Linked DNA regions of Homo sapiens: all the other regions are linked to region 1. Evidence: fine-mapped expression QTL. A gene starts in region 1. Each other region holds a variant in brackets. All regions are shown on one strand. Distances are between the middles of the regions.

What was found.
Region 2: its variant is fine-mapped to the expression of ADGRE3 in whole blood (INTERVAL, PIP above 0.99).
Region 3: its variant is fine-mapped to the expression of ADGRE3 in whole blood (INTERVAL, PIP above 0.99).

What each region holds. Positions count from the first base shown.
Region 1 is chr19:14,670,168-14,680,585 of GRCh38, reverse strand. ADGRE3 (adhesion G protein-coupled receptor E3) reads left to right here and starts at 5,742. Exons shown (of 16, transcript NM_032571.5): 1 at 5,742-5,840. The coding sequence starts at 5,816.
Region 2 is chr19:14,637,128-14,645,127 of GRCh38, reverse strand. It overlaps ADGRE3 (adhesion G protein-coupled receptor E3), which reads left to right. Exons shown (of 16, transcript NM_032571.5): 9 at 853-1,020; 10 at 3,512-3,709; 11 at 6,788-7,023. Among named protein-coding and RNA genes, the nearest start is that of SNORA104, 19 kb to the right of the region's middle. The variant G/A (reference allele first, on the strand shown) is at 3,615.
Region 3 is chr19:14,608,271-14,617,640 of GRCh38, reverse strand. It overlaps CLEC17A (C-type lectin domain containing 17A), which reads right to left. Exons shown (of 14, transcript NM_001204118.2): 14 at 5,606-7,577. The coding sequence ends at 7,445. It also overlaps a transcript of ADGRE3 not described here. Among named protein-coding and RNA genes, the nearest start is that of SNORA104, 9.3 kb to the left of the region's middle. RefSeq lists a silencer at 3,366-3,415. The variant A/TA (reference allele first, on the strand shown) is at 4,709.

The sequences.
Region 1 (10,418 bases):
AACATACTATCATCTGTTTGTTTCTCCAAAGATAATTTTGAGGGCTTCAATATTTAAGGGGGAAAAGCAGACTGGAGGGGAAAGAGGGAGAGTTTGGTCACATTACTGAACCAATGTGTTGCCAGAGATAAAAGGAGCAGGTGGGGGACTAGTCAATGATGTATTCACCTTGTGCTCAGTAAATCGGCACTTTATGTAAGATAAAATGAATATACAGTAGCTACCTGTGAAGATATCTGGCCTTTTATCTGTAGCTGTCTGCTTGACTCCGCTTTCAGCTTAATTTTATTCCTGAATTGGAGTCCTGAGACTTTATTTTCCTTTCACAAGAGTTTATCATGGAAGGACATGCAAAAGAATGCCACTTGAAGGACGTGGCCAGGAGTAGAGTGGCAAGAAAGAAAAAGAAAGGGCATTCCAGGTGGGGCACAGTGGGTCACACCTGTAATCCCAGCACTTTGGGAGGCCAAGGCAGGCAGATCACTTGAGACCAGGAGTTTGAGACCAGCCTGACCAACGTGAGGAAATTCCATCTCTACTAAAAATACAAAAATTAGCCAGGCATGGTGGCGGGTACCTATAGTCCCAGTTACTCAGGAGGCTAAGGCAGGAGAATTGCTTGAACCCGGGGAGCGGAGATTGCAGTGAGCCAAGATCATGTCACTGTACTCCAGCCTGGGTGACAGAGTGAGACTTTGTCTCAAAAAAAAAAAAAAATGGGGGGGCATTCCAGGTTGAGAGAATCACATGTACAAAGGCATGAAAGGCTACAAATAGAATGTGGAGTTTAGGGAAACAGAAAATGTATCAGGGAAGGTGGAAAGGCTGAAGCAGAAGGGTAGGAAATGAGGCTGGAGAAGTGGAGTGGGACCAGAGTGGGGTGAGATTTATGCACCTACTAAGTAAGTGCATTTAGCCTGTGAAATATTCACAGGGTTGTGAGGCAGAGGTGTGATGGGCCCAGAATCATCTTTCAGAAAACTGTCCTGACTGCACGGTGGAGGATGGGACAGAAGGACAACGAGTTACGAGACTATTGCAGTTATCCCAGATCAGAGATGCCTGCAGAAAAGAGAGGTTGAGTAACTTTCCCAAAGTCACACAGCTAATCAGTGGCAGAGCCAGGATTTGAACCCAGGGATTCTGACTCTGCAGCCAACATTCTGTAATAGCATAACTACTGAGTTAAGCCATTCTTGCATTGTTACAAAGGAATATCCAAGGCTGGGTAATTGATAAAGAAGTGTTTTAACTGGCCCGTGGTTCCGCAGGCTTTACAGGAAGCTGACATCTGCTTGGTTTCTGGGAAGGCCTGGGAAGCTTCCAATCATAGCAGAAGGTGAAGGGAAAGTAGGTGTCTCATGGTGAGGGCAGGAGCAAGAGAGAAGAGGGGAGGAGTCACACACTTTTAAACAACCAGATCTCATGAGAACTCACTCACTATCATGAGGACAGCACCGAGGAAATGGCACTAAACCAGCCATCAAAAATCCACCCCCATAATCCAATCACCTCCCACCAGGCCGCACCTCCAACACTGGGGATTACATTTCAAGATGAGAGTTAGAGGGAACAACATCCAAACTATGTGAACCACTTTGGCCTGACCATTAGGTAGCACCACCTGTCTCTCTTGATCAACTCTTGCCTCTACAACCCCACCCCTAGACGATCACTAGGGAGAAAGATCAGGAAGCCTCACTGCATGCATGCTGGGACAGTAGGATGTTGAGAGCCCAACAAACCTACTACGTACGTTCATGGCCTTGACAATCCCAATAGCCAGCTAATTCCACCATGCTCCAAACACCCAGGGAGGTCTCTTGATCATCTTGCTTTGCTCATACTTTTTTCTCCAACTGTCTTTACAGGTGACTTCACTTGCTGTCTCCACTTCTTCCCCTCGCGCTTTTTCCTCAATCCACATAATTCTGGCTTGAACCATTATAACAACAACCTCCACCACCTTCCCTACCATTATTGGCATCACCACCATCTTTACCTCCACTATCAACATAACCACCACCGCCACTATTTTCACTCCCATCTTCATCACCACTGCTATCACAGCCTTCATCACCATCACAACAGTCACCTTCACTACAACTGTCACCATCAATCACCATCATCACCACCATCTCTGAAAACATCACTGTGATGTTACCACCACCATTGCTACTACCACCGTCGTCACTTTCGTCACCTTCAGCCCCATCGCAACCATCATCATCACCACCATCATCACTTCCGTCATCACCACCACGACCTCTACCACCACCATCGCTACTGCCACTACCATGATGACCACCATCACCACTGCAACCATTCTATCACCATCATCATCACCACCACAACCGTTATTATCATCATCATCATCACCATGTTAGATATGAGTTCTAAATTTATTTTCAAAGAATTAATATGTCAGTATGTTCAATTCTTTGCCTTCTACTTTTAAACTTAACTTCCTCGTAAAGCAGCTTTTTCGATTACCTACTCCACCCTGACTCATTCTGATCACCTGCTCCACCCTAACTCATTCCGATTACCTGCTACCTGCTCTGCCCTGACTCCCGCCAAAGCACTCACCCCGTCATTCTCTTTAAATTAGCCAATCGGCATTAGTTTAGCCTGCGCGGTCTAATCCTAGCCAATAGGGGAACGACACAGCAGCAGGGGCCACCTGAGTCAGGGATAAGAACCCCTTCCCCTCCCATGTCCGAATGTGCGCTCGCCACTGTTCCATCTGTAAGGGCACACCCTTCTATATTGAAGTAACTTGCCTTGCTGAGAATTAAAAGGAAAATTTTATATTCAAGTGCTATTTCTTTCACGTCACCGAAACTTTATATATAACAACCACCACCACAACCGCTATCATCAGCATCAGCATCATCACCACCACCACCACCTTCACTACTGTAATTGTTCATGCTAAGAATACAAACAACCCCCTTGCAGCTCTCTCCTGTGGGTGTCTTTCAGTCTTAATTCAGTGTGATCTCTTTCCTTTACCTCCATAATACCATACTCCATTCATTTCCCACCCCCACCCCTCATCTCTCTGGCCATTCTCGTCCTGTCTCCTCTATTAGCTGCCTCTCCATTCCTTTATTTTTTTTAATTTTTTTCTATTGCCTTTGCACAAATTAACATTGCCTGAGTTTTTAAATGAATTACTCAGGGTTCTTTTTCCACTCTATAATCTCTCCCTAAATGATTTAATCCATGACCGTGTCTTCAGTTGCCACCAGGGCTACTTTCTTGCAGTGGTTTTTTTGTTTGTTTGCCTGTTTGTTTGTTCCTTTTTGTTCCTGTTGTATCTAGTGATACAAGAGCTAAAAAGATATTATTCAGGCAACTGGTGAGGGTAAGAGAGTCCTCAGTAAGGCTTCCCTGTTAACAAAAAGCAGCCCCAAAATCATTTCTTTTCGTCTTTACCTCCACTACCAATATAACCACCACCTTTGCTATTTTCACCCCATCATTATCACCACTGCTATCACAGCCTTCGTCACCATCACCACAACAATCACCTTCACTGCAGCTGTCACCTTCAATCACCATCATCACCACCATCTCTGAAAATATCACCATAATGTAACCATCACCATCGCTACTACCATCACCGTCACTTTCATCATCTTCACCATCATCGCAACCATCGTCATCATCACCATCATCCCTTCCTTCATCGTCACCACCACCACCTATAGCTCCACCATCACTCCTGCCACTACCATGATTACCACCATCACCACCACAACCGTTATTATCACCATCATCATCATCACCACCACGACAAAGAGCAGTCTGCAAAATCGAGCTACAAACATAAATAAGCAAGCTGGAAGTTTGCAAAGGTAAATGCAGCGGCTGTGCCAATAGGAAAAGGCTTCCTGGGGGCAGGCATGTTCAACATGGAGGTTCCCTCTTCCCTTTTTTTTTTTTTTTTTTTTTTTTGAGACAGAGTCTCGCTCTTTCGCCCAGGCCAGACTGCAGTGGCGCTATCTCGGGTCACTGCAAGCCCCGCCTTCCGGGTTCACGCCATTCTCCTGCCTCAGCCTCCCGAGTAGCTGGGACTACAGGCGCCCGCCACCGCGCCCGGCTAATTTTTTGTATTTTTAGTAGAGACGGGGTTTCACCATGTTCCCTTTTCTTTATCACCACGTGTGCAGTAAAAAAGCAGGCAACATAGTGCCAGCCAGGTAGAGACCCCATCTGCATAGTAAAAGATGAGGATGGGGCGGCCAGCTTCTTTGCGTGCTATGCAAACAGCACACCCAGTCCGACCAATCTCTCGGTTCCTGTGTAAATCAGACAGCTCCTCCTCAAGCTCGGCTATAAAACCCCATGTATTTCACCACGAGACCAGAAGACTCACTTGGGAGCCCCTCTCTCTCTGCAGGATAGAGCTTTTCTCTTTTTTCTCTTCTCTTGCCTGTTAAACTTCTGCTCTGAAACTCACTTTTTTTTTTTTTTTTTTAGATGAAGTCTCACTCTGTCACCCAGGCTGGAAGGAACTGGCGCAATCTTCGCTCACGGCAACCTCTGCCTCCCGGGTTCAAACAATTCTCCCGCTTCAGCCTTCCGAGTAGCTGGGATTACAGGCATGCGCCACCATGCCCAGCTAATTTTTGTATTTTTAGTACAGACAGGGTTTCACCATGTTGGCTTGGCTGGTCTTGAACTCCTGACCTCAGGTGATCCGCCCGTCTCAGCCTCCCAAAGTGCTGGGATTACAAGGGTGAGCCACAGTGCTCGGCCTTAAATTCACTTCTTGTGCATCCGCATCCTTGATTTACTTGGCATGAGAGGATGAACCCCAGACAACAACACTGCTTCAGTAGGAAGTCTGGTGTTTTAAGTCTAATGAAGAGCTTCAGAAGAGTTTTAAGCAGGGGAGCCGGGTGCAGTGGCTCACACCGGTAATCTCAACACTGGGAGACTGAGGCAGAAGGATTGCTTGAGCCCAGAAATTCAAGACAAGCCTGGGCTACAAAGCGAGGCCCTGTCTCTCTTCAAAAAAAAAAATAAAAACTAAAAAAAATTAGCCAGGCGTGGTGGCATGCACCTGTAGTCCTAACGATTCAGAGGACTGAGGTGGGAGGATCGCTGGAGCCCAGGAGTTTGAGGTTGCAGTGAGCTATGATTGTGCCACGGCACTCCAGCCTGGGTAACAGAGCAAGACCCACATAAATAAATAAATAAATATTTGCTGGAGGAAGGGTAGATTTACAGACTTTTTCTCCCAAGTCCTGTGACTGGTTAGGGTTGGTCCAAATAACCAAATAATGTATTACCTTCTATGAGACTTTGGGACTCTTAACTTCTTATGGCTCAGCAATCATAACCAGTAAGTATCATCTACTGGGGGAAGAGAAAGATATGTTAAAATGACTCCTCTGGAAACTTCAGATACCAACACAGACACCCTAAAATCTGGTTTACTCACCTCAAAGCCACAGGCTTATTTAAGATTTATTTTGGCCCCAAAGGCACTTCCTAATCCTCAGACAATGTGATGTAACTTTCAGGGCATTTCCTCGTTAGGGTTTACCAACTCAATCATCCCAAAGGTGATCAACAATAGCTAGGCAGAAAAGGTACAGCAAATAAACGAAAAGCAGAACCATGAGTCTGATGGCGAAAGAGGGGAAGCAGTTTGCTTTTCTGATAGCAATTTCATGAGTCAGCTGACCTAAGATACATACTTCAATTCTCATGGGATTTCTTGAGCTAGGAAAGGTGGTTGGCTTACGGCACAGTAGAGAGCTTCCAGGGCTGGCTGGCGTGGGATACCCGTACCACAGAAATGCAGGGACCATTGCTTCTTCCAGGTATGTGTGACTGTAACAATGACTGAGGCTTAACCTATCCCCCAGTCAGGGACCACTTGGTTCAACAATTGGTTATTTTCTCCTCCTCTTTCTTCTGCTCTGAACACTCTCACCTTTTCCCTTTGGAGTGTGGTTTCCTTCCTGACTACCCTATTCAAAGTATGCTCTCGAATATCCCTAAAATGTTCCTATCCAATCTAGTAGCTTGGTTTTTTGTTTGTTTTGTTTGTTTGTTTTGTTTTGTTTTTTGAGACAGAATCTCACTCTGTCACCCAGGTTGGAGTGCAGTGGCGCAATCTTGACTCACTGAAACCTCTGCCTCCCGGGTTCAAGTGATTCTCCTGCCTCAGCCTCCTGAGTAGCTGGGATTACAGGCACACATCACCACACCTGGCTAATTTTTGTATTTTTAGTAGAGATGGGGTTTCACCATGTTGCCCTGGCTGGTCTCGAACTCCTGACCTCAGGTGATCCACCCGCCTCAGCCTGCCAAAGTGCTAGGATTACAGGCATGAGCCACCGCACCCGGTCTCTAATACGTTGTTCATCTTCCTCTTGGCAAGTTTTGTTTTCTAATTGATGTCTTCTCCTTCTTGATAACTTCTGCAAACTAGCCCTGCCCTGACTTTTTTCCTTTTTCTCTTGCTATTCTTTCTTCTCCCTCCTTTATCATTTTCCTGTGACAAGAAAATAAATGATAATTTTATTATTAATTTTAGAGGTCATTATATTAAGTGAAATAACTCAAACACCAAAAGACAAATGCCTCATGTTCTTGTTTATCAGTGGGAGCTAAATAATGTGGACACATGGACATAGAGAGTAGAATGATAGACGATGAAGACTGGGAAGGCTGAGGGAGTAGAAGGACAGTGGAAAATAAGAAGTTACCTAATGGTTACAATGTACATCATTTGGATGGTGGATACTCTAAAAGCCCTGACTTCACCACTATGAAATCTATGCGTGTAACAAAATTACACTTGTATCCCATAAATTTATACAAAGAAAATAATGATAACCAACATTTTTGAAAACTCACTATGCACCTTACATGTATTAATCTGTTGCATCATCAGTATGCTCATGGGGTATCCTCATCTTACAGATAAGAAAACTGGGGCACAGGTTATGTTATTTGTCCAACATCACACAGCTAGTAAATAAGAGAGCTGGGATTTGAATCCAAACCATCTGTCTCCAGATCTTTGCTATAATGCTCCTCCCACAGGATCCTTACTGGGATCTTCTGTTTTTCTACTCCCTCTCCCTATGGGAATCTCCTAATTCCATGGCTTCAACCACCATCTCTGTACGGATGAAATCCCATCCATCTTTCCAGCTCCAGATGAATTAACAATATTGATAGTCCCAATATCAATCAAAGCTTACATTTATTAAGCAGCTACTTTAGCCTGGCATTAGGCTTAAATTGCTTTACATTGTCACATAGCATCTGCACATTACAGATAAGAAATTGCATCATAGAGAGGTTCTGTGAATTTCTCAAAGCCTCACAGCTATTCTGCTGCAGAGGCAGCTGATAGGCTGTAAATTCTATCAAAATAATACAAGCTACACTTAAATCCTAATGCCATGTCTCCCTCACCTTTGCAACCCCTAGCATAGCATCTTATATATAAGAGGTGTTTCAGTATATGTGGAATCAAATGTGAAAGAAGCCTGCCTTTTTGCAACTGGAGACAGAGTCCTCCACACTTCTGAGGTGGATTATTAGTGAATTTTGGTTATCCAGGAACTTTTAGCCCATATCACTGGATGGTACAGGCAAGGGTGATGATATGAGCATTGGGTCAAGAATTAGGATTCCAGGGTTGGGCATGGAGGCTCATACCTATAATCCCAAAGCTTTGGAAGGCAAGGCGGGAAGATTGCTTGAGCCAGGAGTTCAAGACCAGACTGAGCAACATAGCAAGACTCTGTCTCCAAGAAACATTAAAAAAAAAAATTAGCCAGTCATGGTGGCACACACCTGCAGTCCCAGCTACCCTGGAGGCTGAGGTGGGAGGATCGCTTGAGCTCAGGAGTTCAAGGTTACAATGAGCTGTGATTGCATCACTGCACTCCAGCCTGAGCAACAGAGCTCAAATGATAATATAGGCAGCAAGCTAGAGCAATTAGGCAAAAAGAGAGAAAGAAAAAGCATCCAAATGGGAAAGGAGGAAGTCAGATGGTGACAGAGGCAGCCAGTATCAGTGGAGGACTTCCTGCCTGACATTGTGCTCTACACAGTCCCTCATTTAGGTCATCTCCAAAACCCCACAAAGTAGGTCATACTGCCACCCTATTTCACATAAGGAAGCTTAGAGAAGTTAAACAACTTACCCAAATTTGCCCAACTAGTGTGCCAGCCACTTAACCCCAGGGGACCTGTTTCCTCATCTACAAAATAAGTCAGTGGATGATTTCTAAAGTTTCTTAGAACTCTGGGATTCTGACACACCGATGACTCTTCAGAAACCCTAACTTAAGACCTTTGCCCAAATTAGTGAGTACAGGCTTGCTGGTTAGACTAAAGACTAGTCTTAAGGAAACATGATGGTCCCCCAGACTGCCTGAGTTTTAGGAACAGGGTAACACTATTCAGCCATATGGTTTATCAGTTGGCCCTGTGAGCTAGTCATCATTTGGGCAGGCGTAAGGTTTGTGTGGCTGCTACACATTCATGTATATACAAAAGAAGAAAGTGCCTCACGCATATAATGCCAACACTTTGGGAGGCCACAGAAGGAGGATCACTTGAGGCCAACAGTTCAAGACCAGCTCGGTCAACACAGCAAGACCCAATCTCTACCAAAAAAATTTTTTTTAATTGGCCACAAGTGGTATCTCATGCATGTAGCCCAGGAGTTCAAGGCTACAGTGAGGTATGATTGCACCACTGCACTCCAACCGGGGCAACAGAAAAAGAACCTGCCTCAAAAAAATAAAAATAAAAATAAAAAATGTAGAAGGAAGGGGACTTTAAAGGAAACATCAGCCTGACATTAAGCCCAGCTGAGAATATTCAAAATGTTCTGTGAATGCAATTGCATAAGTAACTGATCACAAACCAGACCTGGCATCTTCTTGGGGGAAGGGTGAGAATTACAGGAAGAAAAATAACAGTCCCCCCAGAGACATCCACATCCTAATCCCTGGAACCTGTTAATATGTTACCTTACATGGTAAAAGAAACTTTGCAGATGTTGATTAAGATAAGAATCTTAATATGGGGGTAGTACCCTGAATTTTCCAGGGGGCCTAATATAATAATCACAAAGGTCCTCTTAAGAGGGAGGTGGAAGATCAGGAAGACGAGAAGATGCTGTGCTGCTGGATTTAAAGAAGGAGGAAGGGTCCGTGAGCCAAGAAATGCAGGCAGCTTCTAGAAGCTGGAAAAGGCAAGGAGACAGATTCTCCCCTAGAGCTTCCAAAAGAAACCAGCCCTACTAACATTCTTGATTTTAGCCTATAGAGGCTGATTTAAGACTTCTGACTTCCAGACCTGTAAGAGAATAATAAATCAGTGTTGTTTTAAGCCACTACAGTCATGGTAATTTGTGATAGCAGCAATTGGAAACTCAAGAGAGAGATCCAGAAGGATTTAGATTGCTGCCATTACCTCTCCTGAAGAGTCACACAGTTAGCCCCCAGGGCCTCTTCTCCAAAATCCTACAATTGGTCTGCACTGCCCTAAATGACCAAGTCACATACCACTCTCTACGGGACTTTGAGGCTCCAGTCAGATCTGGTGAGTGGCATCTGCCGGGGGAAAAAAGGACAAGTCACTGTCACAATAAACATGCCAACCTACAGTGTCTACAATCTGAACAGCACTTCCATGCAGGTAGTGCCCTGTGGGATTTCTGAAGGAGAGGCTATGTGGTGTAATGGGTTATCAGCTAGAACCCAGAACCCGTGTTTAACCTCAGCTCTGCCACTGACTAGCCCCAGTGAATGGAGCAAGTTACTTACCTTCTCTGTGCCTCCATTTCTTAATCTGAAAAGCAGAGATGATGCTAATAGCACTTTCCTGCTAAAGTCGTTGCAAAGCTGAAGTGACAGAAAAAAAGCAGTCCATCTGTCCAGCATCTTTAGGTCTTTGCAGAAGCAGGAACATGACTGATGACATCATCGGATGTTGGAAAGGCATGGGGAAGAGCAAAGGGCTCTTTACCAGCCACAATAGAGCCAGCCTGAGCAGACAATTTTCCAAAAAGGTGGAAATAATATCCCCCATCAAAAATGTGTTTCTAGAACCTTGCTGGTCTCTCATAAGGAGGAAGAATTTGATTCTTCTCCACTTGAATCTGAATGAGCTTGTAACTTGCTTGTAACCAAGGGAATATGATGGAAGTAGAGCCAGGTGACTTTCAGGGATGAGTGTCAAGAGGAAATGCAGCCTCATCAGCTGGGACACTCATGCTTAGAGCTTAGATGTTCCATTAAAGCAGCTTGCTTCAGGTCTCCATGTTTGAAGGAAGCCCAAACAAGCCCAACACCCTGAGACAACAGGTGAAGGGACAATGCCCAGCTAGTTCTCAGCCGTTGCAGCCCCATCCACTAACTGACTAT
Region 2 (8,000 bases), 34 kb after region 1:
AAACTGTGGTTCCCAGGGAGCCTTTGCTTTATTTTATGTTACATAAAATCCCAAAAGAGCTGCGGTTATGGATCGGGGGTCCTGGTGGCCGCATAAAATAGAAATCAGGTACAGCGGCTCATGCCCATAACCACAGCCTCTTGGGAGGCCAAGGCAGGAGGATTGCTTGAGGCCAGGAGTTCAAGACCAGCCTGGGCAATATGTTGAAACCCCATCTCTACTAAAAATACAAAAGTTAGCTGGGCATGGTGGTACACACTTGTAGTTCTAGCTACTCTGGAGGCTGAGATGGGAGGATCGTTTGAGCCAGGGAGGTCAAGGTGGCAGTGAGCTGTGATTGCGTCACGGCACTCCAGCCTGGGTGACAGAATGAGACCCCGTCTCAAAAACAAACAAACAAAACAGAAATCACCTGAGTCACTCTTCACACAGGTGCCTTAGCAGGTGGCACCCTGGCATAGGCCAACACTGAGAACTGTCCCTCCTGAGGAAAAAGACAATGAGCTGGCCAGATGCAGTGGCTCATGCCTGTATGATCCCAGCACTTTGGGAGGCAAAGGCAGGAAGATTGCTTGAGTCCAGGAGTTCGAGACCAGCCTGGGCAGCACGGTTGACCCTGTCTCTACAAAAAATACAAAAATTAGCCTGGTGTGGTACTGCACGTCTGTAATCCCAGCTACTTGGGAGGCTGAGGCAGGAGAATCGCTTGAACCCAGGAAGCGGAGGTTGCAGTGAGCCGAGATTGAGCCACTGCACTCCAGCCTGAGTAACAAAGCAAGATTTTGTCTCCAAAAAAAAAAAAGAAAGAAAGAAAGACAAAGACAATGAGCCCTTTCTATTTTCTATTTTCAGATGACCCCCAGTACCAAAAAGGTCTTCTGTGTCTACTGGAAGAGCACAGGGCAGGGCAGCCAGTGGTCCAGGGATGGCTGCTTCCTGATACACGTGAACAAGAGTCACACCATGTGTAATTGCAGTCACCTGTCCAGCTTCGCTGTCCTGATGGCCCTGACCAGCCAGGTATGATGTATATGTTTTATTCTTCCAGCAAATACTTTCTGAGCCCCTACTAAGTGGTAATAAGTGCTATTAAAAAAAAAAAAAAAAACTGAAAAAAGGCCGAGCATGGTGACTCATGCCTTTAATCCCAGCACTTTGGGAGGCCAAGACGGGCAGATCACCTGAGGTCAAGAGTTTGAAACCAGCCTGGCCAACATGGCAAAAACCCATCTCTGCTAAAAATACAAAAATTCGCCAAACATAGTGGTACATGCCTGTAATCCCAGCTACTCAGGAGGCTGAGACAAGAGGATGGCTTGAACCTGGGAGGCAGAGGTTTCAGGGAGCTGAGAGCAAGCCATTGCACTCCAGCCTGGGTGATAGAGCAAGACTCCATCTCAAAAAAAAAAAAATCAACATGTGGAAAAGACGCAAGGTAAGAAGTCCAGGAGAAACCTGGTGCAAGCTTCCAGTGTCCTCTCCCAGGAAAGTCACACAGATGCAGTTCATTCTCCCAGCAATGACTTATGACAACGCATGTGAAGTGTTGTCAGCCAGGGAAGCTCACCAGAGCTTTGGTGTTCAGGGTGTGTATTGGGGGATCATTCACATAGGGATGCAATGCCTACATGGTTGACCTCAGTTGCTCAGACTATAGGACCCCAGGGCAAAGATATGATTACTGGGCCAGGCACAGTGGCTCACACCTGTAATCCCAGCACTTTGGGAGGCCGAGGCAGGCAGATCACGAGGTCAGGAGATCAAGACCATCCTGACCAACATGGTGAAACCCCATCTCTACTAAAAATACAAAAATTAGCCAGGTGTGGTGGCACACGCCTGTTGTCCCAGCTACGCAGGAGGCTGAGGCAGGAGAATTGCTTGAACCTGGGAGGCAGAGGTTGCAGCGAACCGAGATCACACCACTGAACTCCATCCTGGCGACAGAGCGAGACTCTGTCTAAAAAAAAAAAAAAAAAAAAACCATGATTACTATAAACCACATCATGAATGACTACTATTAAAAAGTCAAAAAATAACAGATGCTGGTGAGGTAGCAGAAAAAAAGGAACACACACTGTTGGTGGGGTTGTAAATTGGTTCAACCATTGTGGAAAGCAGCATGTCACTTTCTCAAAGAGCTGAAAACAGGACTACCATTCAACCCAGCAATCCTGTTACTGGGTATATACCCAAAGGAATATAAATCATTCTATCATAAAGACACATGCACATGTATGTTCACTGCAGCACTATTCACAATAGCAGAGACATAGAATCAACCTAAATGCCCATCAATGGTAGACTGGATAAAGAAAATGTGGTACATATGGAATACATACACCATGGAATACTATGCAGCCATAAAAAAGAATGAGATCATGTCCTTTGCAGGGACATGGATGGAGCTGGAGGCCATTATCCTTAGCAAACTAACACAGGAACAGAAAACCAAATACTCGTGTTCTCACTTATAAGTGGGAGCTACATGAGGAGACATATGGACACAAAGAGGGGAACAACAGACACAAAGAGGGTGGAGAGTGGGAGGAGGGAGAGGACCAGGAAAAATAACTAATGGGTACTAAGCTTAATACCTGGGTGATGAAATAATCTGTACAAGAGACCCCCGCGACAGGGGTTTACCTATGTAACAAACCTGCACATGTATCTCTGAACTTAAAAAAGTTTTTTAAATCCCTTCATTAGTATGAGCTCTCTGATCAAACTGGTACTGCATAGCACAAGCCCTCTGCATACAAAGACACTTTATTTTTTTTTTAGATACGGGGTCTCACTTGTTGCTCAGGTCGGTCTTGAACTCCTGGCCTCCAGCAATCCTCCCACCTCAGCTTCCCAAAGCATTGGGATTACAGGTGTGAGACACCATGGCCCAAAAATCACTTTGTAAAGATTGTGGTAAAATACACAGAACATAAAATTTACCATCTAAGCCATTTTTAAATGTATATACAGTTCAGTAAAGTACAATCATATCGTGCAATCATCAACCACCATCCATCTCCAGAACTCTTTCATCTTGCAATACTGAAACTCTTCACTCCTTAACCAACTCCCTATTCTCTCTCTCTCCTCTCCCCAGCTTCTGGTAACTGCCATTCTACTTTTTTTAGGGGAAAAAAATCATATGTCCAAACTCATCAAAGTGTATACATTTAATATGAGTAATTTTTGATACATTAAGTATACACCTCAATAAAGCTGAAAATAAAAAAGACAGTCTAGCAATCTATATTAGCAGTCTACATTAACAATCACATTAGCAGTCTGTATTAACAATCTACATTGGCAGTCTACATTAACAATCTACGTTAGCCATCTATATTAGCAGTGTATATTAGCAGTCTACATTAGCAATCTACATTAGCAGTCTAACGGTCCCACACTACCACTGGGCTTGGTGCCTGTGTCTAGGATGCCCCAGTTCAAGGAGGGAGCCATAATCCCAGTGCAGGAAAGCATCACTGTGAACTTTTTTTCTCGGTCCCAGGAGGAGGATCCCGTGCTGACTGTCATCACCTACGTGGGGCTGAGCGTCTCTCTGCTGTGCCTCCTCCTGGCGGCCCTCACTTTTCTCCTGTGTAAAGCCATCC[G/A]GAACACCAGCACCTCACTGCATCTGCAGCTCTCGCTCTGCCTCTTCCTGGCCCACCTCCTCTTCCTCGTGGGGATTGATCGAACTGAACCCAAGGTACTGACAGTGTCTCAGAGGATGCCCTTTCTGCCCCAAGGTACACTGAGCTCATGGAGCAATGCTGCACTAGATTCCTTAATAAAATGTCCTTGGGTCTGTAGAGGAGAAAAATATAATTTTCCCGCTACCCTTCTGAGATCGTAGCTGGGACCCATGTAACAAAAGACAGATAAGAGAAAAAGCAAACAGAAGTTCATTAACATATATTCATATTTCATATATACATGGGAGATACCCAGGTAACGAGGCATTCTCAAAGAGGTAGTTTAGAACGACAGCGTTTTTGACAAAGAATGATGAATTTTTGAAGAAGGGAAAAAGATCTTGGCTCTCTAGGGGCACAAATTATGGGAAGGCAAATATCTGGGAAATGAGTGATAGATAAAGGCTTACTAGTATCATTGGTTGTATTACTCCATTTTCAGGCTGCTGATAAAGATATACCCAAGACTGGGAAGAAAAAGAGGTTTAATTGGACTTGCAGTTCCACATGGCAGGGGAGGCCTCAGAATCATGGCGGGAGGCGAAAGGCACTTCTTACATGGTGGCTGCAAGAGAAAAAATGAGGAAGATCCAAAAGCAGAAACCCCTGATAAAACCATCAGATCTCGTGAAATTTATTTCCTACCACGAGAACAATATGGGGAAAACCGCCCCCATGATTCAAATTATCTCCCACCGGGTCCTCCCCACAACATTTGGGAATTATGGGAGTGCAATTCAAGATGAGATTTGGGTGGGGACACAGAGCCAAACCATATCATTGGTTTTGTAGATTCCTCTGGTGTTGGCTCCAGACCAATGAGGATCTAAAGTTGTCTCGGTGGCCGGGCACAGTGGCTCACACCTGTAATCCCAGCACTTTGGGGGACTGAGGTGGGCAGATCACCTGAGGTCAGGAGTTCAAGGCCAGCCTGGTCAACATGGCAAAACTCCGTCTCTACTAAAAATACAAAATATTAGCCCAGCGTGGTGATGAGCACCTGTAATCCCAGCTACTTGGGAGGCTGAGGCAGGAGAATTGCTTGAACCCGGGAGGCAGAGGCTGCAGTGAGCCAAGATTGCGCCATTGCACTCCAGCCTGGGCAACAAGAGCAAAACTCCATCTTAAATAAATAAATAAGTTGTCTTAGTGATCAACTTTTGTCCCCCCCATAGCAAGGGTAGGAGGGTAGAAGGAAGAGAATAGGTATGAGGAATGCCTTTGTAAACTAATGTCCTGGAATACTATTCAGCCTTCAGAAAAAGAAGGAAATCCTGCCATTTGTGATAACATGGATGAACCTGGAGATTGTTAAGCTGAGTGAAATAAGCAAGGCACAGAAAGACAAACAGTGCATGATCTCACTTATGTGTGGAATCTAAAATAGCCAAACTCATAAAACCAAAGAGGGGAATGGTTGTTAGCAGAGACTAAGGCAGCAGGGAAGGGGTTTAGGGAGATGTTGGTCAAAGGATACCAAATTTCAGCTAGACGGAAAGAATAAATACAAGAGAGCTATTGTACATCATGACTATAGTCAATAACAATATATTCTATATTGAAAAATTGCTAACAAAGTAGATTTTAAGTGTTCTCACCCCCCAAAAAAGACAAGTACAAAAACGTATGTCCTGCTTTTAGGCAAATAGGGGGAGGGCAGAGAGCTATTTTTGTATCTGCTTCTTCTCAACTGCCTTCAGTTTAAAATAATCCCTTGGGCCAGACACAGTGGCTGACACCTGCAATCCCTGCACACTGGGAGGCAATGGTGGAAAGATCACTTGAGGCCAGGCGTTTGAGGCCATCCTGGGCAATATAGTGAGACCTTGTCTCTACAAAAAAAACAAAAAAAATAACAAAATTAGCTGGACACAGTGGTGCACGTCTGTAGTCCCAGCTGCTTGGGAGGCTGAGGCAGGAAGATTGCTTGAACCCAGGAGTTCGAGGCTGCAGTGAGCTATGATTGCAACCACTGTACTCCAGCCTGGGTGACAGAGCAAGACCATGTCTCAAAAAAAAAAGAATCATAATCATAATAATAATCTCTTATGCTAAAGTGAAACTTTTTTCTAAATTTTATTTTTAATTGAAAAATAATAAATGTATAAAATTATGGGGTACAATGTGAAGTTTCCATAGACATACACATTATGAAATGACCAAACCAGGATAATAAACATATCTATCACTTCCATACTTATCATTTCTTTGTGGTGAAAACATTTAAAATTCACTCTTTTAGGACTGGGGTGGCGGTTCATGCTTGTAATACCAGCACTTTAGGAGGCCAAGGCGGGAGGATCACTTCAGCCCAGGAGTTGGAGACTGGCCTGGGCAACACAGTGAGACCCCGTCTCTGCAAAAATTAGTGGATATGGTGGCACACACTTGTAGTCCCAGCTACTAGGGAGGCTGAGGTGGGAGGATCACTTGAGCCTGAGAGTTCAAGGCTGCAGTGAGCTATGATTGTGCCACTGCACTCCAGCCTGGGTGACAGAGTGAGATCCTGTCACAAAGAAATAAAATAGAACAAAATCCACTCTTTTAGCAACTTCAAAATTCATAATATATTAACTATAGTCACCACGCAATACAGTAGGAGTAGAGAGTAGAATGGAGGTTCTCAGAGGTTGAGGGGGGAAGTGGATGAGGAAAGGAGACATAGCTCAAAGTATACAAAGTCTTAGTTTAAAAGGAGGGGTAAATTCTGGTGATCTGTTGCAAAGTGGCATAGGTGGAGGTGGCACATTCTGCTACCCTTTCAGTCCCAAGGGCAGGTTGAAGGGATTGGTGCCCAGGTGGCCAAAGCTATCCTTGACTATCAACTATCTATTTTTTTAAATATAATTGAGATGGGGTCTCACTAAGTTGCCCAGGCTGGTCTCAAACTCCTGGGCTCAAGCAATCCTCCCACCTCAGCCTCCCAAAGTGCTGAAATTACAGACATGAGCCACTGCATCCAGTTCCCCTTTACTTTTAGTGCCCTTGGTCTGATGTCAGGTGCTCTGAACCCAAAGCCAATGTCAAGGAGAGGTCCTAGGGCCATACTCCACCCTGACAACCCCTTCAGGCATCCCTTTCTCCTCCCCCAGGTGCTGTGCTCCATCATCGCCGGTGCTTTGCACTATCTCTACCTGGCCGCCTTCACCTGGATGCTGCTGGAGGGTGTGCACCTCTTCCTCACTGCACGGAACCTGACAGTGGTCAACTACTCAAGCATCAATAGACTCATGAAGTGGATCATGTTCCCAGTCGGCTATGGCGTTCCCGCTGTGACTGTGGCCATTTCTGCAGCCTCCTGGCCTCACCTTTATGGAACTGCTGATCGGTGAGCTTGAATCCCACCTTGTGTCATGGACAGTTTCCTAAGAAAGCTTTTGAGGGCAGCATTCATGATGATGGTGGGAATATACGTAACCAATGCACTCTACGTTCTCCTTTATAACAGCTCTAACCTCTTTCCCAACAAAGCAGGGTGAGATGGTGGTAAGAGTTTGCAAGGTTCTGGAAGTCTTATACAACCAACAGGTTCATATGCCCACTGCACAGTAACGTACCAATCCACCAAGACAGCAGGGTTTGCAGCAGAGAAAGAGCTTAATGAGGCCAGGTGTGGTGGCTCACACCTGTAATACCAACAATTTGGGAGGCCAACGTGGGAGGATCACTTGAGGCCAGGAGTTCAAGACCAGCCTGGGCAATATAGCAAGGCCCTCATCTCTACAAAAAATTAGCTGAGCACAGTGGCTCACACCTGTAATCCCAGCACTTTGGGAAGCCCAGACAGGAGGATCACTTGAGTTCACAACTTCAAGACCAGCCTGGGCAACATAGCAAGACCTTGTGTCTACTAAAGATTAAAAAAAAAAAAAATAGCCAAGCATGGTGGTTCACACCTGTAGTCCCAGCTACTCAAGAAGCTGAGATGGAAGGATTGCTTGAGCCCAGGAGTTCAAGGCTGCAGTGAGCTATGCTCAGGCCACTACATTCCAGCCTGGGTGACAGATCAAGACCTTGTCTCAAAAAAAAAAAAAAAAAAGAGCTTAAAAATCTCAGGGCGCCAAGCGAGAAGATGAGAGAAGACTCTCAAATCAATCTCCTCAAGGAGTTCGGGACTGGGACTTTTAAAGGGATCATGGAGGGTGTGGAGGCTGGAAAATGTGGGTCAGGGTACAGCAGACAAAATCATCAGGAGACGGAAACTGCCTTCTTTGGTGACTCAGCTCCTTCTGTGGTCCTTCAGAGCAGCTGAAGCCAGTAGTTTCACTGGTACACAGGACCTGAAAGAATATCTCAAGGGGAAAC
Region 3 (9,370 bases), 62 kb after region 1:
GGATCACCTGAGGTCAGGAGTTCGAGACCAGCCTATCCAATGTGGTGAAACCCCATCTCTACTAAAAATGCAAATATTAGCCAGGCGTGGTGGCAGGGGCCTGTAATCCCAGCTACTTGGGAGGCTGAGGCAGGAGAATCACTTGAACCCAGGAGGCAGAGGTTGCAGTGAGTCAATATCATGCCATTGCACTCTAGTTTGGGTGACAGAGTAAGACTCCATCAAGAAAGAGAGAAAGAAAAGAAAGAAAGAAAGAAAGAAAGGAAGAAAGAAAGAAAGAAAGAAAGAAAGAAAGAAAGGGAGGGAGGGAGGGAGGGAAGCAAGGGGAAGAGAGAGAGGAAGAGAGAGAGAAAGAGAAAGAACGAAAAAGAAAGGAAGGAAGGAAGAAAGAAAAAAGAAAAGAAAAGAGAAAAGAAAAGAAGGAAGGAAAAGAGAGGACACATGTTCAGGCCCCTTCTATCCAAAAAGTCTCCCCTTAATCTGCTTTCCCTCTGCAATAGCCACTCTATCTCTCCTCCTCTTCACAGCCAAAATTCTAGAAAAAAAGGTGGGGTGTGGTGGCTCACACCTATAATCCCAGCACTTTGGGAGGCCAAGGCGGGTGGTTCACCTGAGGTCAGGAGTTCGAGACCAGCCTGACCAACATGGAGAAACACCCTCTCTACTAAAAATACGAAATTAGCCAGGCGTGGTGGCGCATGTCTGTAATCCCCAGCTACTCAGGAGGCTGAGGCAGGAGAATCACTTGAACCCGGGAGATGGAGGTTGCGGTGAGCCGAGATTGCGCCACTGCACTCCAGACTGGGCAACAAGAGCGAAATTCCATCTCAAAAAAAAAAAAAAAAAAATTCTAGAAAAAAGCTTGTTTCCACTGTGTTGTCTTCACTTGCTCCAACCTCCTCACTGTTCAACCACTGCAATCTAACTTCTGCTTGCAACACACCAAAGGATGAACCAATGTCCCAAATGCTTCCTCGGTGCAAAGTCCACTGGTTGTTTCTCAGTCTTACCAAACTTGACCGCTGGGTCAACATTTGACTCTGTTGATCATTTTTTTTCTTCTTGAAGCATTCTCTTCTCTTGGCTTCCCTGATGCCACACTATCCTCCTATAAGGATAGTCAATTCATTCTGGTTTACCCGGGACTTTCCCAGGTTTAGTACCAAAAGTCCCACAATCCAGGAGTCCCTCAGTCCCAGGCAAACCAGAACCATTTCACAAACTCATCTTTGATGATGACACTCATCCCATAGCATCATCATTTGAGTTCTCCCAAAAGCAAACTCTGAGATAAGGAGTTTAATGCATGCAGGTAGATTATTTTGGAGATGATCCCAGGAAACACCAACGGGGTGTGAAGAAATGAGGCAGGGCTGGGCACGGTGGCTCACACCTGTAATCCTAGCACTTTGGAAGGCCGAGATGGGCAGATCACGAGGAGTTCACGTGGAGATCACGAGGAGATCACAAGGGCAGAGGTCAGGAGTTCAAGACCAGCCTGGCCAATATGGTGACACCCCGTCTCTACTAAAAATACAAAAATTAGCCGGGTGTGGTGGCATAGGCCTGTAGTCCCAGCTACTCGGGAGGCTGAGGCAGAAGAATCACTTGAACCTGGGAGGCGGAGGTTACAGTGGGCGACAGAGCAAGACTCTGTTAAAAAAAAAAAAAAAAGTAAGGCAGAGAAAGAACAAGATGTGTTAAAAGATGTGTTATTGCTGGGAGCAGTGGCACACACCTGTAGTCTCAGATACTCTGGAGGCGAAGGCGGGAGGATTGCTTGAACCCAGGAGTTCAATGTTGCAGTGAGCTATGATTGCACCACTGCACTCTAGGTTGGGCAACACAGCGAGAACCTGTCTCTCTAATTTTTTTTTTTTTTTAGCAGAGTCTCTCTGTTGCCCAGGCTGGAGTGCAGTGGCATAATCTCAGCTCACTGTAACTTTCGCCTCCCGGGTTCAAGCAAATCTCCTGCCTCAGCCTCCTGAGTAGCTGGGATTACAGGCACGCACCACCACGCCCGGCTAATTTTTGTATTTTTTAGTAGAGATGGGGTTTCAACATGTTGCCCAGGCTGGTCTCGAACTCATGGCCTCAAGCGATCCACCTGCCTCGGCCTCCCAAAGTGCTGGGATTACAGGCGTGAGCCACCACACCTGGCCAGAGATGCTGTCTCTCTAAAAAAAATTTTTTTTAATTTTAAAAATTAACCAAAAATGTGTTAGTTGAGCAGGCTATCTCTCTAGGCAGGTGGAGCTTTACCCTAGTGGGGACTTTCAGGAGATAATGTGGAACATGCATCTCAGAGTCACCTCTCCCGAGGAACGAGGGAGCTGGGGTGGGAGATGGAAGTTGCAGTGAGCCAAGATCACACCACTGCACTCCAGCCTGGGCAACAGAGTGAGACTCCATCTCAAAAAAAAAAAAAAAAAAAAAAAGAAGGCAGCTGTAGAAAGAGATCAACAAACAGTGGGAGGCACAGATGGAATCTGAATCCCAGTTCTGCCATTTACCCACTAAATGACAATGGACAAGCCGTGAGACCCCACCTCTGGGCCTCAGTTTGCCCAGGTATAAAATGGGGTTGGTTAGCCAGGTGTAGTGGCACACACCTATAGCCACAGCTACTTGGGAGGCTGAGGTGGGAGGATCACTTGAGCCCAGGAGGTTGAGGCCACAATGAGCTGTGATTGCACCACTGCACTTCAGCCTGGGTGACAGAGTGAGACCCTGTCTTTAAAAAAAAAAAAAAATGGGGGCCGGGCACAGTGGCTCACACCTATAATCCCAGCACGCAGCACGTTGGGAGGCTAAGGCAGGCAGATCACTTGAAGCCAGGGGTTTGAGACCAGCCTGGCCAACATGGCAAAACCCCATCTCTAGTAAAAATACGAAAAAATTCACTGGGCATTACGGTGTACCTGTAATCCCAACTACTTGGGAGGCAGAGGCAGAAGAATGGCTTGAACCCAGGAGGCAAAGGTTGCAGTGAGCCGAGATCACACCACTGCACTCCAGCCTGGGAGACAGAGTGAGACTCTGCCCAAAAAAAAAAAAAGATTGGCGGGCGTTGGTAAATATTCCAACCTCACAAAGTCATGGTGAAGATTCAATGAGAGCCACTGCATTTATTTACCACACAATATATGTTTGATAAACCATGGTTATTATTTTTATCCAACTGTTGCTCCCCTGGACCTAAAGTGGTAAAAAGTGACCTCTTTCATATTTACCTCTCTGCAATTAGATAATCATGAGAGATGTGGAAGGGAGATAGGTTGGGACCAGTTCCACCAGGGGCCTCCTAGAGACGTGACCACAGACCCCTGCTTCCCCATTTCTCAATACGCATATCAGAAAACAACTTCCCTCTTCTGAAATGTGGGAACTTCCCCTGACCCCAGATAAAGTTGCTTGACATAACAGTCCCCTGGGTGGAGGGTTTACAACACGACACCCACCCACTCAGCAGGCTGCGGACAGTACAGGAGCTGGCTTTGGTAGTGATGCATCAGGGCAGCTGCAGAGGTGGGCAGAGGTGAGAAGAGAGGACAGACAGAACCAAAACTCAGTAGTGGGGTCGTGCCTGTGAAATGCCACTGCACTCCAGCCTGGGCCACGTCCTGAGAACCCATCTCTTAAAAATAAATAACGAGGCTGGGTGCAGTGGCTCACACCTGTAATCCCAGCACTTTGAGAGGCCAAGGCGGGTGGATCACTTGAGGTCAGGAGTTCGAGACCAGCCTGGCCAAAGTGGCGAAATGCCGTCTCTACTAATAATACAAAAATTAGCCGGATGTGGTGGCGCACACCTGTAATCCCAGCTACTCAGGAGGCTGAGGCACAAGAATCGCTTGTACCCAGGAGGAGGAGGTTGCAGTGAGCCGAGATCATGCCACTGTACTCCAGCCTGGGTGACAGAGTGACACTCCATCTCAAAAAAAATTTTTTTAATAACGAAATAAAAGAACAAGTAGATTTAAAACAAATCAAAGAAACAGGAAGTGAAATCAGCTCCGACCTCTCCCACCACCTGCTCTCCTCACAGTCTCCTTGCTATAAGCACCTGTTCTCAGACAAAACAGGAAAGATTCTGCTATTGATTAAGGGAGCTTATTGATCAATAAATTGATCGCAATCCTTGTATTTTAGGAGGCTGAAGCAGGAGGATTGTTTGAGACCAGGAGTTTAAGCCCAGTCTGGGCAACAAAGCAAGACCCCTGTCTATACAAAAAAAAAAAAAAATTAAAATTAGCTGGGTGTGGTGGGGGCACACCTGTAGTTCTAGTTATACAGGAGTCTGAGGACGGAGGATTTCTTGAGCTCAGGTGTTTGAGGCTTCAGTGAGCTATGATTACAACACTGCACTCCAGCCTGGGCGACAGAGTGAGACCTTGTCTCAAAAAATAAAATAAGGCCAGGCATGGTGGCTCACGCCTGTAATCTTAGCACTTTAGGGGGCTGAGGTGGGCGGATCACTTGAGGTCAGGAGTTCGAGACCAGCCTGGCCAACATGGCAAAGCCCTGTCTCTACTAAAAATACAAAAATTAGCCAGGCATGGTGGCACGTGCCTGAAATCCCAGCTATTCAGGAGGCTGAGGCAGAAGAACCAGTTAAACCTGGAAAGCAGAGGTTGCAGTGAGCCGAGATCACGCCGCTGCACTCCAGCCTGGGCAACAGAGCAAGACTCTGTCACAAAAAAAAAAA[A/TA]AATAAATTGATTGGTTTGGAGAATGTCTACCCACCCTTGGATGCAATTCAGGGATTGTCCAAAGGGAATACTATGTTGAGTTATGCCTAGCTGGGAGTAGTACCAGCCCTCTAATTGGTATTTTTTGGTTGTCACATGGCCAGGGCAGGAGGGTCGGGTGGGGGTCACTCTGGCAGTTTGTGAATGTTATGGGCCAAATTGTGCCACCCCTCCCAAATGCATATGTTTAAATTCTAATTCCCAGGACCTCCTAATATGGCTGTATTTGGAGACAGGATCTTTAAAGTGGTCGTTGTAGGCCCAGCACAGTGGCTCATGCCTGTAATCCCAGCACTTTGGGGGACCAAGGTGGGCAGATTGCTTGAGCCTAGGAGTTCAAAACCAGTCTGGGCAACATGGTGAAACCCCGTTGCTACAAAAAATACAAGAATTAACCAGGCACGGTGGTGCACACCTGTAATCCCAGCTACTCAGGAGGCTGAGGCGGGAGGATGCTTAAGCCTGGGAGGTGGAAGTTGCAGTGAGCTGAGATCACACCACTGCACTCCAGCCTGAGTGACAGAGCGAGACCCTGTCTCAAAAACAAAAGAAGAGGAGGAGGAGATTAGGACCCAGACACACAGAAGGAGAACCAGGTGAAGACACAGGGAGAAGAGGATCATCTACAAGCCAAGACAGGAGGCCTCAGAAGAAATTAACCCTGCCAACACCTTGATCTTGGACATCCAGCCTCCGGAACTGTGAGAAAATGCATTCTGTTGCTGAAGCCACCCAGTCCTTTGTTATGGCAGCCCCAGCAAACTAACACACAGTAGACAAGGAACACCCAACATAGTGGCATTTTGAGAAGCACTAACATTGCAAGAGCTAATAGCCCAGGAAAGTCCACACAGAAGTAAAGTGAATTTTTATTTTTATTTATTTATTTGAGATGGAGTCTTGCTCTGTCACCCAGGCTGGAGTGCAGTGGCACAATCTCGGCTCACTGCAACCTCCGCCTCCTGGGTTCAAGCAATTCTCGTGCCTTAGTCTCCTGAGTAGCTGGGATTACAGGCACATGCCACCACGCCCAGCTAATTTTTTTGTATTTTTAGTAGAGATAGGATTTTACCATGTTGGCCAGGCTGGTCTCGAAATCCTGACCCCAGGTGATCAGCCCACCTCAGTCTCCCAGAGTGCTGGGATTACAGGCGTGAGCCACTGTGCCTGGCAAGTAAAGTGAATTATATCATCAAAGACGTTACAACCCACAGATAGCTCAAGGGCACGTGCTGGCAGATAGGTCCATCGTTGTCCTGTGTGGATATGACCAGGTTATGGCCTGCCTGGCCACACTATGTAGGGGTCTTGCTTTTCAGCTGGTATGCCTTTCTAGAAGTTCCATGGGCCAGCCAGGTGTGAGGGTGAACGCCTGTAGTCCCAGCTACTTGGGAGGCTGAGGCAGGAGGATCACTCGAGCCCAGGAGGCAGAGGGTGCAGTAAGCTATGATTGTGCCACTGCACTCCAGCCTGGGTAGTAGAATGAAACCCTATCTCAAAAAAAAAAAAAAAAAAAAAAAAGGATAGAAGTTCCACGGGCCAAGTCTTCTGGCAAAAGTCTGATTCTGCCACTTAGCTTGTGCAAACCTCACCCAAGACATTGAGAAAGTTGCTGGTCAAAAATAATTTTGATGGTTTCTGGGTTATTTGTGCTGTTTGAGACCAGGAAGGAAGCAGTGTCTGGAGAGGACGACATGGGGTGAATATAGAAGCTCTCCTGTCTTCTCCGCTGATGTTCTGTATTTTTAGGTTTGTAATTTGCAATGATGTGGGGACTACATGAGACCAGCCCACTTAATGTATTTCTGTGCGAGGCAGATCTAGAGGTCTAGCTCAAAGGGAAATTTTTCTGTCACCACTTTCAAAGCTTTTGTTTGGAAAAAAAAAAAAAAGGAAAAGATGGGGAAAGTAAAAATAAAAATAAAAATATCGGCCAGGTACGGTGACACATGCCTGTAATCCCAGCACTTTGGGAGGCCATCACGGAAGGATTGCTTGACCCCAGGAGTTTGAGACCAGCCTCGGCAACAGAGTGAGACCTCATCTCTATAAAAATAATAATAATAATTTTGAGCCAGGCACAGTGGCTCACACCTGTAATCCTCACAATTTGGGAAGCCCAAGTAGGAGGATCCATTGAGGCAAGGAGTTTGAGACTGGCCTGGGCAACATAGTGAGACTCCCTCTCTTTAAATGCTACAAAAAATTGGCCAGGCATGGTGGTGCGCATGTGTAGTCCCAGCTACTCAGGAGGCTGAGATGGGAGGATCACCTGAGCCCAGAAGTTTGAGGCTGCAGGAAAAGGAGCCCAGTCCCAGCTCTTTGTGGTTCACAGGCGCCAGGATATTTCATCCCAGGTTCAACACCAGCCCCAGGGTCCTCAGGGCTAGTATCACTTCCCAAGAGTCATGATCAGGAACTTAGTGAAGATCCTTTCAACCCCAGAAGTGGGAGACCTCCCACCACCAAGCTCTGAGCATCCTCCCAGCTCACCATCTACTAGGGCAAGCCCAAGTCCTCACTCTAGAAACAGCCTGACTTGCACCCCTGGGAACTTGCTGCATCCAGGGTGCCAATCCTGTTTGAGGCACATCTGTGTGTCCACTCACGAAGAGGCAAGGCCGTCCACGAAAGGGCAGGAGATTCTCATCTCAAAGAGACACTCAGATATGGACCCCCAGCCTCGGCCCTGGGCTTCAACAGGAACATTTCCGCTCACAAATCCAATACGTAGTTTTGTAGCAAGAGAGATCATTCCAGGTGCCACCTTTGTTCATGGTAGCACAGTCCTCATCGTGGATGTTATTGGGTTCCTCTGGCTCCCAGAAGCTGGATGGAGGAAAAAGTGGGCAGAGGGACAGGGATCTTTAGGGTGGTGAAACTCTTCTGTATAATACTGTAATGATGAATACCTGGCACTACGCATTTGGCAAAACCCATATTAGGCCGTGTGTGGAGCCTTACACCTGTAAGCCGGGCACAGTGAGCCACCGTGCCTGGCCCTTAATCAATTTCTGGTTTTGGGGGGTTTTTTGTTTTGTTTTGTTTTGTTTTGGAGACAGAGTCTCACTCTGTCGCTGAGGCTGGAGTGCAGTGGCGTGATCTCGGCTCACTGCAACCTCTGTCTCCTGGGTTCAAGCAATTCTCCTGCCTCAGCCTCCCAAGTAGCTGGGATTACAGGTGTCCACCACCACACCCGGCTAGTTTTTATATTTTTAGTAGAGACGGGGTTTCACCATGTTGGCCAGGCTGGTCTTGAACTCCTGACCTCAAGTGATCCGCCCGCCTCAGCCTCCCAAAGTGCTAGGATTACAGGCACGAGCCACCGTGCCTGGCCCCTTAATCAATTTCTGAATCTGGTCAGTTTCTGTCTTGTCTTCCAAGGACTCTTTCTTTTACAACCTCCCAACCCAACCTTCTAGGAATTGTTTAGATCATGTGGGCTCTTGCTTAAAGCAGGGCCTGATTCAGGGACTCGAGTGTGTAGGATTTATTAAAGGATGTTCTTAGGAGAGAGGTGAGGGAAGCTAGATGGAGAAGGGGAAGGAATTGAGCAGGAGCATGGACTCAGATGACTCTAGCCTCAGCCTGACCCCAACAGAGACCACTGGGATGTCAACAGCACCAGAGTCATCCCAACTTGTCACAAGGGGTCCAGGCTTCTCTTAGGCTGTCACCGGTTGTGAGCTGACCCCAGTGGAGTTGGGTAGTGTCTTAGGTGAGCAGGCTCCCATTCAGCTGAGAATAGCTTTGCGGAAAAAGCATTCCTGTGAGCCTTTAGCAGCCAATGTTCCGCCAGGTGCGGTGGCACACACCTGTAATCCCAGCACTTTGGGAGGCCAAGACGGGTAGATCACCTGAGGTCAGGATTTCGAGACCAGCCTGGCCAACATGTTGAAACCCCGTCTCTACTAAAACTACAAAAATTAACCAAGCATGGTGGCGGGCGCCTGTAATCCCAGCTACTTGGGAGACTAAGGCAGGAGAATCGCTTGAATCCAGGAGGCAGAAGTTGCAGTGAGCCAAGATTGTGCCACTGCACTACAGCTCGGGCCACAGAGTGAGACTCCGTCTCAAAAAAAAAAAAAAAAATTAGCCAGGCATGGTGGTGCGCACCTGTAATCCCAGCTACTCAATAGTCTGAGGTGGGAGAATCACTTGAGCCTGGGAGGCAGAGGTTGCATTGGGTCAAGACTGCACCACTGCACTTCAGCCTGGGCAACAGAGTGAGACTCTGTCTCAAAAAAAAAAAAAAAAAAAAAAATTCTTCCTCATCCTTCCACCCTCCCTTTTTTCTCCCAACCATTAGCCTGGAGAGCTTGATATATTTCAGCAGTTTTACGAAAAGACTGAGATGTTGCAATGGAGGAAATATTGAAGGTTCAGGGTCCAGACAGCCTGTCACCAAAAAATCACCCTGGTGCTGTCCCTGTCTGGCCAAGCCTGGGATGCTAGACACCCTATCAGCTTGGACTGCAAGGATGCCAAGCACACAGGGAAATGGGAATGACTGGGGGTGGTGTACCAAAATAATGAGCAATGCTACCTGTGCCACACACCCTGCAATCAGGGTCTCTAGGCCCCTTCTTTGCCAATGACAAATCCTTTAGTTGTTAGGTGAT